2 linked regions of the Homo sapiens genome follow. The protein of the gene in region 1 purifies or fractionates together with the protein of each later gene. This does not show direct contact. Each region holds a gene or a part of one and is shown on either strand. Other genes may lie near its edges.

What was found.
Region 2: the proteins of SLC30A6 (region 1) and MYO18A purify together in Homo sapiens (affinity purification with mass spectrometry; 3 studies listed by BioGRID and IntAct, with this or other methods). This does not show direct contact.

Annotation. Positions count from the first base shown.
Region 1 is NC_000002.12:32,216,975-32,226,213, reverse strand, and holds the end of SLC30A6 (zinc transporter 6), read right to left. Parts: intron 6,002-9,239; coding exon 5,501-6,001; 3' UTR 1,835-5,500; downstream 1-1,834. Other genes in the region: NLRC4 (NLR family CARD domain-containing protein 4), read left to right, coding at 1,449-1,741. UniProt on the Homo sapiens protein: Has probably no intrinsic transporter activity but together with SLC30A5 forms a functional zinc ion:proton antiporter heterodimer, mediating zinc entry into the lumen of organelles along the secretory pathway.
Region 2 is NC_000017.11:29,170,399-29,178,517, forward strand, and holds part of MYO18A (unconventional myosin-XVIIIa), read right to left. Parts: intron 6,376-8,119; exon of another isoform or gene 6,174-6,375; intron 1-6,173.

The sequences.
Region 1 (9,239 bases):
TAAGGGTATAGTTTCAGTGCATAACTAGGTTGACCTCACCCACGTAAGCTGGTCGGACAAGACTGTCCATTTCTGTCATTAAGCCCTCATTACTGGTAGCAGATACCTTTTAGTCTTTGCTTGCTAACCTTAAGGTTGTACAGCACCGAATCTTTCCTTCTTTAACTTGAACTCTTTAGTGGTCTTCTCACTGAGACAATGGAAAGGAACTTTTAAAACCTCTTTTCCTACTTGGAATCCAAACTGAATCATGGACCTTCATTTCCATAAGGGTCAGTTTCTGGAACATTATCTAATATTACACATCTCCCAAGAAACACAAGTTTAATATACAACAAATTAACCCTCCAAAGTTGGGTGAGGTACACTAAGACTAAGATGAGCTCGGATGAGCCGAGTAATGTGGATTGATAAACCAGGCATACATCTTCTGCATTTTGTGTGTGATACTCTGGAGTATAAACATGTAAGTAAGAGTTCCCATGTCCAGTCTGCCTGTCTGTCCACTCTGTACTTCAAGGTGAACTTAGTCATCCAGAAAGGGCCAGGTAGGTGGGTAGGGCTAACGCTTTGCACAATTTAATATGTGTAATTAACACAGAGCTAGTTTTGTGAAATCCTAATGTTGTATACTGGCCAATCTGTATGATGGTAAATAACCTGAAAGAAAGGTATTTTTTCTTATTGCAAGACTCACTTGGGTTCCAGTACCACCTAAACTGGTAACATGGGATAAAGAATGAACACTAAACTATTTGTGTATGTATACACACACACACACACACACACACACACACACACACATCCTTTGTATGTATGTGTGTGTGTGTGCATTCTTTGTGTATCAGAAAGACAGGATATCCACCTACCCTATGTAGGAAATACTTTAGGTGCCCTATTCTGTAAGGAATGGAGGAACTTCCTGAAGAGGCTCGGGAGGGTTATACATAAACAGGTAAACAAAAACACCCAAATCTTTAGATACTGAAGGAGGCTCACTTACTCAAGTTTACAGTTAGGAACATACCCATAGAAACAACAGTTAGGTGGTGTTTACTTTTTCAGAAGAGGAAACGACTTAATATTGCCAAAGATTGACTCCAGTTTTGAAAACAAGTACTGAATATTTAATTAAAGCAACCTTCCATTTCCTAGGAGTAAGGAAAAGGGGAAAAAAAAGTAATTCATTTACATATTGTTGCTACCTCACTACGAATCACTATTTATCAGATTCCCTTATACTCTAGGAAAATATAATAGACCATATTCACAATCACTGCCCTAGCTATAGAGAATTATATTAATAATTTCTTTCTGAGGCAAAGCACTGGTTCAAACATGGCCATTTCAGAGTGAAAAAAAAGTATGTAAAATAAATGTAGAACCTATTTCTCTTTTTTTTTAAAAAAAATTTTTCTTCCAACTAATATACTTATTTCTTTACCCAGGTGCATTTTTTGGAAAGAACCCTCTGAAAAACTTCCAGCAGTTGAATTTGGCGGGAAATCGTGTGAGCAGTGATGGATGGCTTGCCTTCATGGGTGTATTTGAGAATCTTAAGCAATTAGTGTTTTTTGACTTTAGTACTAAAGAATTTCTACCTGATCCAGCATTAGTCAGAAAACTTAGCCAAGTGTTATCCAAGTTAACTTTTCTGCAAGAAGCTAGGCTTGTTGGGTGGCAATTTGATGATGATGATCTCAGTGTTATTACAGGTGCTTTTAAACTAGTAACTGCTTAAATAAAGTGTACTCGAAGCCAGTAAGTGCTCTGGGACCTCATTATTTTAAGCCTGGTAGTTAAAAAAAATCTTGCAAAAGGATGCCAAAGAAGATAAGGACGTGGAAAGAAGTTTAATTTGATGATTAAAAACATGCAACAGTTTTGTGTCTTAGCTCTCCTACTAGGATTATCGGCGCCTTGAAGGAATTCTCATTCATCTTTGTGTTACCTTTGGTCTGGGTCACACCAACTGGTATACTGAATGCATATTAACTTAGTATAGTGCCTGGCATGTAAGAGATTCTCAACAATATTCTCAATAAATATTCGCTGAATATGAGATAAATTATTAATAGCTACTGAATAAAGAAAGATTATTTAAAACCAGAGAGGAAACTCCATATATGTTCTTTAATCCAAACAGTTTAATTCAAGCAATCTGGAATATAAAAAGCACTTTCTGATATTAGAAGGAGATCAGACTCCCAAAAAAGATCAGCATTCTTTAGTCAAGCAAAACTTGGAAGTTTACAAACAGCTAAATCAGAAGCTTGAAATTCAGGTCCTCTCCAGTACCTGCTACATTATATGTAATTCCAAACATGACTTCAGAGATTAAAGAAGAAAGGGAAGATGTTTCCCATTCTTTTGTACCCTATATAAACTAAGGGTACCCTGCCCTAATCTTTTTTCCAACACTTCCCCAAATAACCCTTCCTTACAAAGAAAGAAGTCTAAGAGAACTCTCTCATCTAAATATATTTAAGTAGAGGCAAGCCTGAAAAAAACACAAAAACCTAAATGGTGTTAGGCTGTGGTTCACCTATTCTCATGGCACCTCAAATTAATGGCTTGGGTGTTGGTGTAGGTAACGCTTGGCCTGTATGTTGAGGTAGTCACTAGATAAAATTCTGGGCACAACATCCGTTTAGCAATTGGGCATACATTCTACAGATTTAGCCATAACGTTTTGAAGCTGATTATTTTACAGATCAACTAATTAATTCCTCTCCCTAACTTTACAGATGAGAAAGCTCAGATGATTTGCCCATGGGTTATAAAACTACTTCCTTACACAGTGGCAGCATCAGAACTGGAATTCAGATCTCTTGCCTCCTAGGCAGTGTTTTTCCTATTATAATATGGTGACTTCGTAAAGCAGGGTTAATTACATTCCACAAAGCTTACATCCTAATCACAAACAATGGGACAAATATTTAAATTGAACTTCTTTCTCTGTCTAGCTTCAAGTGATTCTGTGGCAAGATTTACTAGTAAGGCTGCTGCCTATAGGCCTATGCTGGGCAAGTTCCTTATTTTCATATCCAGAAGTTAGTCAGAGCTTGGCAAATAAGACTTCTCTATATAATAATGCCTGGCCCAATGTCCCCTGTAACATCTTACATGCAGGACGTAGGGCCAATTCTTTCATAACCCACAGGCAACTGTGAGTGTCCTTTCTCAAATAGTGAAGGTAGGTATTAAAGCACCTTTGGTGGGACAGATGCACAGGTGTTGCCTCTGAATTGGTGTTGAGGAAGTAGGCATAAAACCTCACACAGAACTGTGTTTGGTACCTGAACACTTTAAAATCCTATGGGGATGGGGAAGACATGCATGGGGTGGCAGCACATACCTCTTAACCATAACTCAGGACACGGCAGTTCAGATTTCATGCATGACCCTAATTCATATTTAGTTGAGATCAATGGAGGAAGAAGAATCATCCTGTAATAGTAGACCAATAACAGATACAGTAATAGTTGGAAAACATAAGATAAAGGCCAAGGAACAGGTTGCCTTATTACATTTTACGAAGTATCATTTTCCCCAGTAGTCAAGGTAGTGTAGGCTGTATTTCTTTAGCAGGTCACATGCCTGAACAGGGGTTGCAGATGCCAAAGACAATGACCAACTCCTCACTAAGAAAAAGGTATTTAGGACATGGTCACTTATTACCACAGATGACAATTCTGCTTGACAGAGATGGCTTCTTGGATGTTTTTAATCCACAGTGAAGAAAAAGGATTTCAAAGTGCTGCTCCTATTTGAAAGTGAATGAGTTGACTGAAGAAACTGTTGCAAAAGAAAAACAAAAATCTTCTCTAGATAGCTGGCTGATGGCTGGGAAAGTCATAAATCTCCAGGAGCATTGGATTCCAGGAAAGTTAAGTCCATTCTCAAAATCCCATTTTAAAACTGTTATGGAATGCATAATAAAATAAAACAATAAAAAACCCTCCTAGGTCATGTGTGACTGCTGCTTGTTATACTTTTTGGAAGTAATACTAGCCATGTTAGAAAGTCCTTAAACTCTGCATTTGGAAAACAACTAAAAAATAACATAATCTATGTAATTCTCACATTTCATCACAGTTAACAATTTCCCATTTTTGACAAAGCAAAACAAAAAGAAACTGCCCACTGCAGACCTAACAATGCTGTATTCTATAATCTAAGGTCCATTATGCTTTGGTAAAATTATATATGCTCAAATTCTTTGTGCAACTTGAAAAGACATCAAATTCCATATTATGTATGGAACTCCATGTGTTTTGGTAATATATCTGATATATTTTGTTAATAAAATAAGAAATTAAAAAGCCAATGAATGAAAATGTGTCAGGAAAGATAAATTCATTATGTCAGTATTTGATTAAATGTAACATAGAAAATTGGGATTCTTTCACTGCATATCACCAAAAGTTGGGTAGTCACTTAATCAAAATAAAACACTGAGAACCATGGACTATTTACAAATGTACTAAAATTTTTAAAGGAGAGAAACTTTAACAAAAATCTTGATAATTAAAAATTCAAATTGTGCTAGATAGAATGTATTCCAAAATTTCTGCTAAAAATTTTTGCTTTTAGTTTGTAAGACATAATTCAGGAGAACCTCAAAGAAAAATTTAGCAATTAAGTTTGGAAAAGCTATAAAAGAGACTTTTACTTTTTGAACAGACATTTTTCCCTTTCCCAAAATGTGTATTATTCAAGAAGCATATTTATAAATTTCATTAAAGAAAATATCGGCCAGGTGCGGTGGCTCACACCTAATCCCAGCACTTTGGGAGGCTAAGGTGGGTGGATCATGAGGTCAGGAGTTCAAGACCAGCCTGGCCAACATGGTGAAATCCCCCGTCTTTACTAAAAATACAAAAATTAGCTGGGCGTGGTGGCAGGTGCCTGTAATCCCAGCTACTCGGGAGGCTGAGGCAGGAGAATCATTTGAACTCAGGAGGCAGAGGTTGCAGTGAGCTGAGATCATGCCACTGCATTCCAGCCTGGGCGACAGAGTGAGACTCCATCTCAAAAAACAAAACAAAACAAAAACTAAGGAAGCCTTAATAAAGTACAGCCTTAAGTTAATAATAATGTATTGGCCGGGCACAGTGGCAGAGCAAGACTCCGTCTCGGAAAAAAAAAGAAATATCGTATCTTAGTAATGTGACAGATCTACTCCATCAAGTGGCTCTTATAAAGGTAAGGTCACATCACACTGCAGTCAACTACAAAACCAAAGATACCAAAATCCAAATTTAAAGAAACACATTTTCTAAAGGAAGCCTATTTAAAGCCTTTAACATTTACGAGGATTTCACTGTCACAAATACATTTTACAAAAATATAGTTTCATAGGTTTCATGAAATGTGAACAAGACTACTATTATCTAACATTTAGAGTAAATGATTAAACAGTCAATGCAAAGTTGGATTACTAAATAAATTGGAAGCCAAGGAGTCAATATTCCTTATAAAAATAAGTTAGAGTCTATCATGGTCTTGGTTGTCCAATTCTATTATTAGTTCCATATCTACTTGGTATATTTGTAAAACCAGTCCTCAATCCTTGAGTTGCTCCAATTCCTGGAACTCCAAGTCCTTGATTAAGCATGCTGCTGTAAGGTGTGTGTCCATGATTGAGACCAAAACCATAAGGCCTTGTTTGTGTGTTTAGAAGAATAACTGGGTTCACATTTTTCCCAGGAGTGTTAAATGAAAATTCTGGAGGTGGACTACTAGGTTTAGCTGGAGTTGATGTAACTGGGTTCAAATCATCAGTACCCTTTAAAAGAGGCATTGGGATTACGTGATGATCTGAAAAGTTTAGGACATTGGCTGCAACAGGCCCAGACAATAAGGCAGGCCTAATCCAGTCATCCTTGAAAATTTGAACAGTTAGAGTAGACACTAGAGTGTACAGCCTGTTGGTCACATGAGCAAGAACCATTTGTTCATTGGCATCTCGTCGAATTCTTACATGCACTGATCCAGCCTAAAAGGGGCAAAATCATAACAAAGAGATTGCTTAGAATTATACTAACAAAAAATTCATTAGATAAAACATTTTATTTATGATTTGGTAAGTTCCTGGCATTTTCTTTGAAAGAAAAAGCTTAATGTTAATATTTCTTAAAGACTACTTGCTGGTGATTATCATTGTAATGAGTTAAATAATTTGTGAATCTTTAAAATACAAAAAAAGAAATATCCATGTAGGAACAAGATAGGAATATTATAATACAAGGAAGAATATAAATGAAACATACAAAAAATACAATGTAAGAGCCGAAAAGGTAGGTATTAATTCCAATTGAAGAGGACTTCAAAAGAAGATGGCATTTAATCTACGGTTGGTGATTAAACAGAATTTCAAAAAGTAGAGACGCATTCCACACTGAGGGAAAAGCAATGAAAATGTATGGCATACTTGGTAAGAATAAGCAATAATACCAATATATAAAGAAGTCCTGGCCGGGCGCAGTGGCTCACATCTGTAATCCCAGCACTTTGGGAGGCCGAGGTGGGTGGATTACCTGAGGTCAGGAGTTCGAGACCAGCCTGGCCAACATGGTGAAACCCAGTCTCCACTAAAAATACAAAAAATTAGCCAGGCATAGTGGCGTGTGCCTGTAATCCCAGCTACTTGGCAGACCGAGGCAGGAGAACAGCTTGAACCCAGGAGGCGGAGGTTGCAGTGAGCCAAGATCGCACCACTGCACTCCAGCCTGAGTGACAGAGTGATATCCTATCTTGAAAAAGAAAAAAAAGAAGTCCAAGTATTTCAGGGGGCAGAAGAAGGAGGAGGGAGAGAGAAGAGAGGGAGAGAAGGAAGAGAGGAAGGAAAGAAGAGAAGGAGAAACAGAGGAAAGGGCTGGGTGTGGTGACTCACGCCTGTAATCCCAGCACTTTGGGAGGCTGAGGTGGGCGGATCACCCCTGACGTCAGGAGTTCGAGACCAGCCTGACCAACATGGTGAAACCCCACCTCCACTAAAAATACAAAAATTAGCCGGGTGTGGTGACATGTGCCTATAATCCCAGCTACTCAGGGGGCTGAGGCAGAAGAATTGCTTGAACCTGGGAGGCGGAGGTTGCAGTGAGCCGAGATCACGCCATCGCACTCCCAGCATGGGAAGAGAAGAAGGGAAGAAGGAAGAAAGAAAAATGATAGGTAGGTAATAAGGTTAAAAAGAGGCTACCAGAGGACTCTAAAATGATAAAGAATTTCAATTTAACATCTGCAACCTAACAGAAATAAATAATCAGAGTTCAGAAAAATTGTAGGTATAGATGACTGGAAATCAGGTAGGAAAAAAACTTCAACAATCTAGATTATAAATGAGGAGAGCTGCCAAGTGCAGTGGCTCATGCCTATAATCCCAGCACTTTGGGAGGCCAAGGCAGGTGGATCACCTGAGGTCAGGAGTTTGAGACCAGCCTGGCCAACATGGCGAAATCACGTCTCTACTAAAAATACAAAAATTAGCTGGGCATGGTGGCATGCACCTGTAATCCCAACTACTCAGGAGGCTGAGGCAGGAAAATCACTTGAATCCAGGAGGCAGACGTTGCAGAGAGCAGAGATCATGCCACTGCACTCCAGCCTGGGAGACAGAACAAGACTCTGTCACAAAACAAAACAAAACAAAACAAAACAAAACAAAACAAAACAAAACAAAACAAAAGAGGAGAGCTGAGCCAGGCCAAAAATAGTGGGATCAGAGAGGGACAGACAGATATATCATATTCCAGAGGTAGTAATGGAAGGACTTGATACCCAGCTGGAAGTAAAGGATGAGGAAGATTGACTCATCAAAGATGATATCAAGGCTTCTAAGGGATAGAGAACACCAGGCATTACAATGAGAGTTAGAAGTATATTTGTTAACTTGAAAAAGTGTTTACCATAAATTATGGGTTTTTTTGGTTTTGTTTTTTTGTTTTCTTTGTAGAGATGAGGTCTCACCGTGTTGCCCAAGCTGGTCTCGAACTCCTAGGTTCAAGCGATCCTCCTGCCTCAGCCTCCCAAAGTGCTGGGATTACGGGCGTGAGCCACCATGCCCGGTCCATAAATTATGTTTTTAAAGTAGATAATCAGCAAATGATCCTATTTTGGTTAACACAAACACACACACACAGACTCCCCCAGCCTGAGCAACATGGTGAAACCCCATCTCTACAAAAAATAAAAAAAATTAGCTGGGCGTGGTGGCACACATCTGTAGTGCCAGCTACTCAGCTACGCAGGAGGCTGAGGTGGGAGAATTGATTGAACCTTAGAGGTCGAGGCTGCAGTGGCTGCACCACTGCACGCCAGCCTGGGTGACAAAGAGAGACCTTGTATCAAGAAAAAAAAAAAAAGAATTCAATCCCATTTACAATATCCACAAAAGAAATAAAATACCTAGAAATACATCTAACCAAAGAGGTGAAAGATCTCTACAAGGAGAACTATGAAACACTGCTCAAAGAAATCACAGATGATACAAACAAATGGAAAAACATTCCACGCTCATGGATTGGAAGATCAGTATCATTAAAATGGCCATATTGTCCAAAGCAATCTATAGATTCCATGCTATTACTATCAAACTACCAATGTCATTTTTCATAGAAGTAGAAAAAAATATTTTAAAATACATATGGAACCAAAAAAGAGCCCAAATAGCCAAAGAAATTCTAAGCAGAAAGAACAAAGCTGGAAGCATCACATTACCTGAATTCAAACTATAAGGCTACAGTAACCAAAACAGCATGGTACTGGTAAAAAGACAAACACATAGACCAATGGAACAGAATAAAGAACCCAGAAATAAAGCCACATACCTACAGCCATCTGATCTTTGACAAAGTCAACAAAAATAGGCAGTGGGGAAAGGACTACCTATTCAATAAATGGTACTAGGATAGCTAGCTAGCCATATGCAGAAGAATGAAGCTGGACCTTCACTTTCACCATATAAAAAGATTAACTCAAGATGGATTAAAGATTTAAATTTAAGACCTCAGCAGGGTGCTATGGCTCATGCCCTGTAATCCCAGCACTTTGGGTGGCCGAGGTAGGCAGATCACCTGAGGTCAGGAGTTCAAGACCAGCCTGACCAACATGGTGAAACCCTGTTTCTACAAAAATGGAAAAAAAAAAAAAAATTTGCCGGGCGTGGTGGCAAATGCCTGCAGTTTCAGCTACTTGGGAGGCTGAGAAGGAAAAATCACTTGAACCCAGGAGGC
Region 2 (8,119 bases), on another chromosome or scaffold:
AGATCTGCAATGCGACTGCTGCTCCATGGCCTTCTTGTAGACCTTGCACTTTCCGGCACCTCCTGGCCTCAGGTCCAAAGTCTCCAACAGCTCTGATACCACTACCTTCCTACCCCCTATCCCGGGCTGCAGTTTCCATCTGCCTCCCATTCCTCTCCTACCCTCTCCCTCCACTCCAGTAAAGGTAACCTTATAATTTTCCTGACCTCCTTTTCTGCGTTTCTCTCCTCATCATACTCTAAGAAGTTTTTCCTAATTTTAAGAAAAGGAAGGCATCTATGTAAGTTAGGGTATGGACCCGAATAATCTTGCTCTTACTATCCCCAAAAACAAAAAGAAAGTACAATCTGTCAACTCAGCTGCTCTATCACTTTAAGAGAGTAAGCATCCCGAAGGCAATGACCATCAACCTCAAATATACATCTATCTGTCCATCAGAGTGCATAAACAATGCTCATATTCATGCAATGGAATACTACTCAGCAAGAAAAAAGAAACAACTAAAGATACACACAATGGGGATGGACTTCAAAATCATGATGTCAAGTGAGAGGGAAAGAAGTCTTTGACAAAGAGCACATATGGGTATGATTCTCTTTATATGAAGTTCTAGTGCAGGCAAAACTAACCTATGGTGGGGGTAGGAGTGGGATCGCATGAGGGAACTTTTTGGGGTGATATTCATGTCCTGTATATTGATAGCGGTTTGGGTTGATAAGTATATGCACTTGTCAAGTTATCAAATGGTGCACATAAGATTTGTGCGTTCAGCCAGGCGCGTTGGCTCACGCCTGTAATACCAGCACTTTGGGAGGCCAAGGCAGGTGGATCATGAGGCCAAGAGATCGAGACCATCCTGAAACCCCGTCTCTAATAAAAATAAAAAAAATTAGCCGGGCGTGGCAGCACACACCTGTAGTCCCAGCTACTAGGGAGGCTGAGGCAGGAGAATCGCTTGAACCTGGGAGGCGGAGGTTGCAGTGAGCCAAGATGATTGCGCCACTGCACTCTAGCCTGGGAGACAGAGCAAGACCCCATCTCAAAAAAAAAAAGATTTGTGCATTCATTGTTTGTAAATATCCACTCAAAAGAAAAGAACTATAAACAAATATTGAACTCTAGTGAATGATATGTATGTTAAAGTATTTGGGGCGAAATATACTGATGTCTACGTTTTACTTTGAGATGTGTAAAATTTTAAGACAGCTTGATGAGGTTGGGCAAGGTGGCTCACATCTATAATCCCAACACTTTGGGAGGCCGAGACGGGCAGATCGCTTGAGCTCAGGAGTCGGAGACAAGCCTGGGCAACATGGCAAAGCCCTGTCTCTACTCAAAATACAAAAAATTATCTGGATGTGGTGGTGCATGCCTGTGGGAGCTACTTGGGAGGCTAAAGTGGGAAGATCACCTGAGCCTGGGAGGTCGAGGCTACATTGAGCCACGATCATGCCATTGCATTCCAGCCTGGGTAACAGAGTAAGACCCTGTCTCAAAAGAAAGAAAGAAAAAAAAAAAAAACCATAGCCTGATGGATGGATCAAGGGATACAGATGTGTAAAAGCAAGGATAGGAAAATGTTAATTGTAGAATCTAGGAAATGGAGGGTATTCGTTGCAAAATTCTTTAACTTTTCTGAATGTTTGCAGGTCATTGTGATAAAATTTTGGGAAAAAATATGTATCTATCAGCCACTTCCTAAAGGCAAGCAACATAAAGATAAGTAAGCCCAGTGTCAGAGCTCAGGCTTTGGATATCAAGTAACAAACCTGTGAACAAATCTGAGTAAACAGGGCCGGGCGCAATGGCTCACGCCTGTAATCCTAGCACTTTGGAAGGCCGAGGAGGGCAGATCACCTGAGATCAGGTGTTCGAAACCAGCCTGGTCAACACGGTGAAACCTTGTCTCTACTAAAAATAGCTGGGCATGGTGGCATGCGCCTGTAATCCCAGCTACTCAGGAGGCTGAGGCAGGAGAATCGCTGAAACCTGGGAGGCAGAGGTTGCAGTGAGCCGAGATCATGCCACTGCACTCCAGCCTGGGCGACAGAACAAGACTCTGTCTAAAAAAAAAAAAATTAAATAAAAATGAAAAAAAATATGAGTAAATAGCTATGAAATCTCAGGCAAATCACTTAAGGCCTCCATGCCTCCATTTCCCCATCTATAAAAATGGAGATAATAATGGTACCTACCACCTAAGGTGGGGGAATTAAATGAAATATATTTAATTACCCTCAGAGAGGTACCTAATAGTAGCAGGGCACAGTTTTTGCAGTCTAAATGACACAGTAGAGAGGATAACAGAGTACACAAGTATGACTAAAATAAGTCAAAACCTTTGTACATGGAAAGTAAAGCCCAAAGAAGTGAAGGTAACTTGATAAGCACAAGGCCAAGCTGGATCACACTGGCTTGAGTCCAGAGGGCCCACGTAGCTAGTGCCAAGGATACTATGGACAGGCAATTTGTAGGGGCAGAAATACAAATGGCCATCAAACATGAACAGGTATTCAGCCTCCATAACATTCACAGACATGTGAAATTGAGGTATACTATTTTCAATTAGCAGTTTAGTAAAAACTATCAAGGTTGATAATATCAATCAATTAGGGCATGGGATGCAGGGAGTCTCATAAGTCTTGGTGGAAACACAAATTGGTAGGTTGGTGCAAAAGTAATTATGGTTTTTGCCGTTACTTTTTTTTTTTTTGAGACGGAGTTTCGCTCTTGTTGCCCAGGCTGGAGTGCAATGGCCCGATTTCAGCTCACTGCAATCCGCCTCCCGGGTTCAAGCAATTCTCCTGCCTCAGCCTCCTGAGTAGCTGGAATTACAGGCATGCGCCACCATGACCGGCTAATTTTGTATTTTTAGTAGAGACGGGGTTTCTCCATGTTGGTCAGGCTGGTCTTGAACTCCTGACCTCAGGTGATCTGCCTGCCTCGGCCTTCCAAAGTGCTGGGATTACAGGCTTGAGCCACTGCGCCCGGCCCTTTTTTTTTTTTTTGAGACGCAGTCTTGCTCTTTCACCAGGCCAGAGTGCAGTGGCACGATCTCTGCTCACTGCAAGCTCCGCCTCCCGGGTTCACGCCATTCTCCTGCCTCAGCCTCCCGAGTAGCTGGTACTACAGGCGCCCGCCACCGCGCCTGGCTAATTTTTTGTATTTTTAGTAGAGACGGGGTTTCACCATGTTACCCAGGATGGTCTCGATCTCCTGACCTCGTGATCCGCCCGCCTCGGCTCCCAAAGTGCTGGGATTACAGGCGTGAGCCACCGCACCCGGCCTGCCGTTACTTTTTAATGGCAAAAACCTCAATTACTTTTGCACCAACTAATGTATTTTCAGAGGTCAAGTCAGTGGTATCTGTGAAAAAAAAAAATTTTTTTAAGAGACAAGGTCTTGCTTTGTCACCCAGGCTGGAGTTTGGTGGCTCAATCATAGATCACTACAGACTTGAACTCCTGGGCTCAAGTGATCCTCCTGTCTTAGCCTCCTGAGTAGCTGTGACTACAGGTGTGCGCCACCATTACTGGCTAACTTTTTAAAAATTGTTTTAGAGACAGGTTCTTGCTATTCTGTCCAGGCTGGTCTCAAACTCCTGGCCCCAAGCAATCCTCCTGCCTCAGCCTCCTGAGTAGCTAGGATTACAGGCACCACCACTGCACCTGGCATATGAAAATATTTATGTACATATTCTTTGGGCAATTCCATTATAAGACATCTATAGGTACATTCACATAATATACATGGCTAATCCTTGCAGCATTGTTTATAATAGCAAGTCTATAAATATAAAAGTCCTTACTAGAGAATAGTAAAACTGGCCAGGTGCAGCGGCTCAGGCCTCTAATTCCAGCACTTTGGGAGGCCAAGGCGGGAGGACTGCTTGAGTCCAGGAGTTTGAGACCAGCCTAGACAACACAGTGAGACTCTGACTCTACAAAAAAATTTTTTAAAAGTAGCTAGGCAGTGGTGCACACCTGTGATACCAGCTACTTGGGAGGCTGAGGTGGGAGGATCACTTGAGCCTAGAAGTCAAGGCTGCATGAGCCAAGATTCGTGCTACTGTGCTCCAGCCTGGGTGGAGGGAGATTATGTCTCAAAAAATAAAAAAAATAAAAAAAAATAAAATGCTGGGCATGGTGGCTCACAACTGTAATCCCAACATTTTGGGAGGCTGAGGCAGGCAGATCACTTGAGGTCAGAAGTTCGAGACTAGCCTGGCCAACATGGTGAAACCCCATCTCCACTAAAAATACAAAACTTTGCCGGCGTAGTGGCGCACCTGTAATCCCAGCTACTCAGGAGGCTGAGGCAGGAGAATCGCTTGAATCCAGGAAGCGGAGGTTGCAGTGAGCCGAGATCACGCCATTGCAGCACTCCAGCCTGCGCGAAAGGGCGAGACTCTGTCTCAAAAAAAAAAGCTAAATTATACAACTGAGCAGTTGTATAATTAAAAGTAAAAAGAATGAAGTAGATTTGTATACACTGACCTGGAAAGATTCTATACTATATTGTTAAGTGAAAAAATAGGTTGCAGGATAGTTTATAATTTTGCTAAAATTTAAAAACCTATATCTATATATGTGCATGAATATATTACATGTACGTTGTGTACAATATTTGCATATGTGTAGGAAAAATATATGCTCTGGGGAGGAGACTGGAATTTTAGAAGGGTCAAATAGACTTGTGTTTCATCCATATTTTAATTTTTTTTCTTTTTTTTTAAATAACAGAGATGGGGTCTCACCATGTTGGTCAGGCTGATCTTGAACTCCTGGCTTCAAGTGGTCCACCCACCTTGGCCTCCAAAGTACTGGATTATAGGCATGGGCCACCGCACTCGGGCTATATTTTAATTTTTTATAAGAACATTCATCTGGTAAATGTGTATTTGCTTACACCTAGGAGCTTCAGGGAGTGGAATTATCTATCATTTTTCTTCTACTTTTATTTCATCTTTTTTTTTTTTTTTTTTGAGACAGGGTCCCACTGTGTCCTCCAGGCTAGAGTGTGGTGCGATCTCGGCTCACTGCAGCCTCAACCTCCTGGGACTCAAGCGATCCTTCCCACCGCAGCCTCCTGAGTAGCTGGGACTACAGGCACTCGCCACCACACCCAGCTAACTTCTGTATTTTTTGTAGAGACAGGGTCTTGCCATGTTGCCCAGCCTGGTCTCAAATTCCTGGGCTCAAGCAATCTGCCTATCTCAGCCTCCCAAAGTCCTGGGATTACAGGTGTGAACCACTGTGTCCGGCCTACTACAGAAATTTTTTAAATATTTATATAAGATGATATTTTATAAAACATATATTAAACTATAAACATATATAGTGCCTAAAATATATATAACAAGCTTTTAAAAAGCAGTCTGGCCAGGCGCAGTGGCTCACACCTGTAATCCCAGCACTTTGGGAGGCCGAGGCAGGTGGATGACGAGGTCAGGAGTTCAAGACCAGCCTGGCCAAGATGGTGAAACCCTGTCTCTACTAAAAATACAAAAAAGTAGCCGGGCGTGGTGGCGGGCGCCTGTAATCCCAGCTGCTCGGGAGGCTGAGGCAGAGAATTGCTTGAACCCCGGAGGCGGAGGTTGCAGTGAGCCAAGATTGCGCCACTGCACTCCAGCCTGGGTGACAGAGCGAGACTCCTTCTCAAAAAAAACAGCAGTCTGGAAAAATTCGATCCAAAAATTTATCAGTGGTCATCTCTGGAGAGTAGGGGAGAAGAAGGGTAACACTTTAGTAACGCTTTAGCTTTCTACCTAATGATTCAACTTTTTTCCAGACTAAAAAAAAATGGACAAACTAGTAGGCAATCCACCAGCAGTAAAGCTGCAAACAGGGTAATGGTCAGTTTAAGGATTGCCTTCATGTCTTGAAAAAGTTTCAGTGGCTTGGGGGACTTGGTTAAAATAGAGTTCACTGGTGTCTTGTGGCTGTAAGTGGGGACACATTTAAATGGGTCACCTAGCAGCTGGCAAAAGAAAAAAAAAACCCAGGAAATGGAAACTATAACGTTAGAGTCCCAAGACAAGGGTGCCCAGAGTTGGCTGTGGTGGATAGATACTTAGGTCAGTCCTCCCACCCCCACCCCCAGACCACACTCATAAATAAATACAAAGGAAATACTTTCCCGAGAGAGCCGGCCTCTCTCCCTTGGCCTCTGACCTCCCTGAGCGGCCGTTTCCTCCAGCCCCGGGACCCCGGCTCTCTCCCCGCGCTCTGCCCCTCGCCAAGGGTTGTAGCAGCGGCCGGAGGGGTAGCCAGCACCTGGCCTGGCCCCGTGCTCCAGGGGGAGCCTCCTCCCGGCCGGCTGTGCTGAGCTCCGCAGCGCCGGGTGACTCCCTGCCAGGTCACACGGAGCTTATCTGGCTCCAGGTGTGCTCCCTCACGCCGACTGCACGCTTCTCACGTGACATTAGCCAGCCCTCACGCCGCCGCGCGGGGAGCCGGGCGGCCCTTGGCGTTTCCCCGCGGCTGGGCCGGCGCAGCCGCAGCCCCGCGGCGCCTCCCGCTGCGATCCCATCTCCCCCGGAAGGCAGCAATCCCGCGGGCCATGGAGGAACGCGAGCGGGAGAGCTCCTGCGGCCTCGCCAGGTTCCCTGCTGCTCTTCCAGGTGCACCGCCTGGCGCTCAGTTCCGCTAACATCCCCTTCCGTGTGACCTTGAGCAAGTCCCCTCCCCTCTCTAAGCCTCCACTATTTCAGCTACAGTTATCTTCAAGGGCCTGACAGCTCAGATTTGGCCCTCAGCCTCTGCTGGAGAGCTATTCTGCTCAACCACACACTGCAGGTTGTAATCCCGCTCTGCCTCTGACTTGCTGTGTGACCTTCAGCCCATCATCCAACCTCTCTGAATATTAGAGAATAATCACAATAATCTCTTGTAAGTGATGATAAACTACTTGGCAGACAGAAAGGGCCCTGGGTCCTGTAAAATCATCAGTCTAACAACCAAAACTGCTGCCTGACTCTAAACTGTTTAAAATGTCAAGGGAAATTGACATTTTACAAGCCCTGCAATTCCTACCTCAAAAGAAGGGCAGGGAAGTGAAGGTGGGAAGTGGAGGCTCACCAGGTCTGCTCACCACCCCTCCCAATCCAGCTCCTACCTCGGCACCTCCCCAACTCCTCTAATTCAGGCCACCTTGGAAAATGCTAGGGGGAAGAAATGGTGATGGGGTGGGGTGTGCAGATCTTAAAGCACCCGGGGGTCTGACCCAAAGCAGAACTTAAACTCCATCAAGCTGCCCTACCAATCCCAAGTCCTGTGGGAACCTGTCAATTACAGCAGACAGTGGGCTGGGCCCTCCTACTGCCCCAAACCTTTAAACTACAACCAGCCAGAGCCCCTCAGTTTTCCCACCACACTCAGGCCTGGGACCCCAGGCCACCAACAAAACCCAGCTCACGTGGATGCTCTGGCTCCTGCCTGTGGCGTCCACCCCAGGTGAGAGGATCTGGCTGAGGAGAGACCTCTGGTTTGAAGGATTAAGAACAGCCCTGCTGCCCTGAAGACCTGTGACACAGCAAGTCCAGATGAAGGCTTCCTGAGTTCCAACAACTCCCAGCTCCACCTCAGCAGGGTGGATTCTCCCTTTCACATGAGCCCCAGTTCTGCCCCACCCAGTCCACCTTTAGGTACCTGCCTCTGGGGGACCCAGAGTTTTCAGGCCCAGTTTCTGAAGACACATGCAGTCCTCAATGAATAGCCACTACCAGGGCCAGTGAGGGGGCCTCCAGGGAACTGGCTGGCTACCCAGACAGCCCAGGAGTGAGGCTGAGAGACCAGGTGGGAGTCAGGAAGGGCATAACCCACATGAGGAAAGTCTGGGGCGCAGGAGGAAGCCCTCAGGCACACACTCTGGCACCTGGGCCAGGCCAGGAGAGAGTAAACAAACTAGACACTCAGAGCTACCAGGCACCAGGTCATCAACTGTTCAAAGTTCAAAGCTCCCAAAGGAAGTGACCGCCAGCCTGTGGCCCCTCCCATGCCCACCCTCCACCCCCACCTACAACCCTTCTCATTCCCCTAATCCCTCAACACAATAGCTGCCCCCAAAGCCATGGTTTTCCTGGAATTGAGGCCACAACCCCCATGTCCTCAACCCAAAA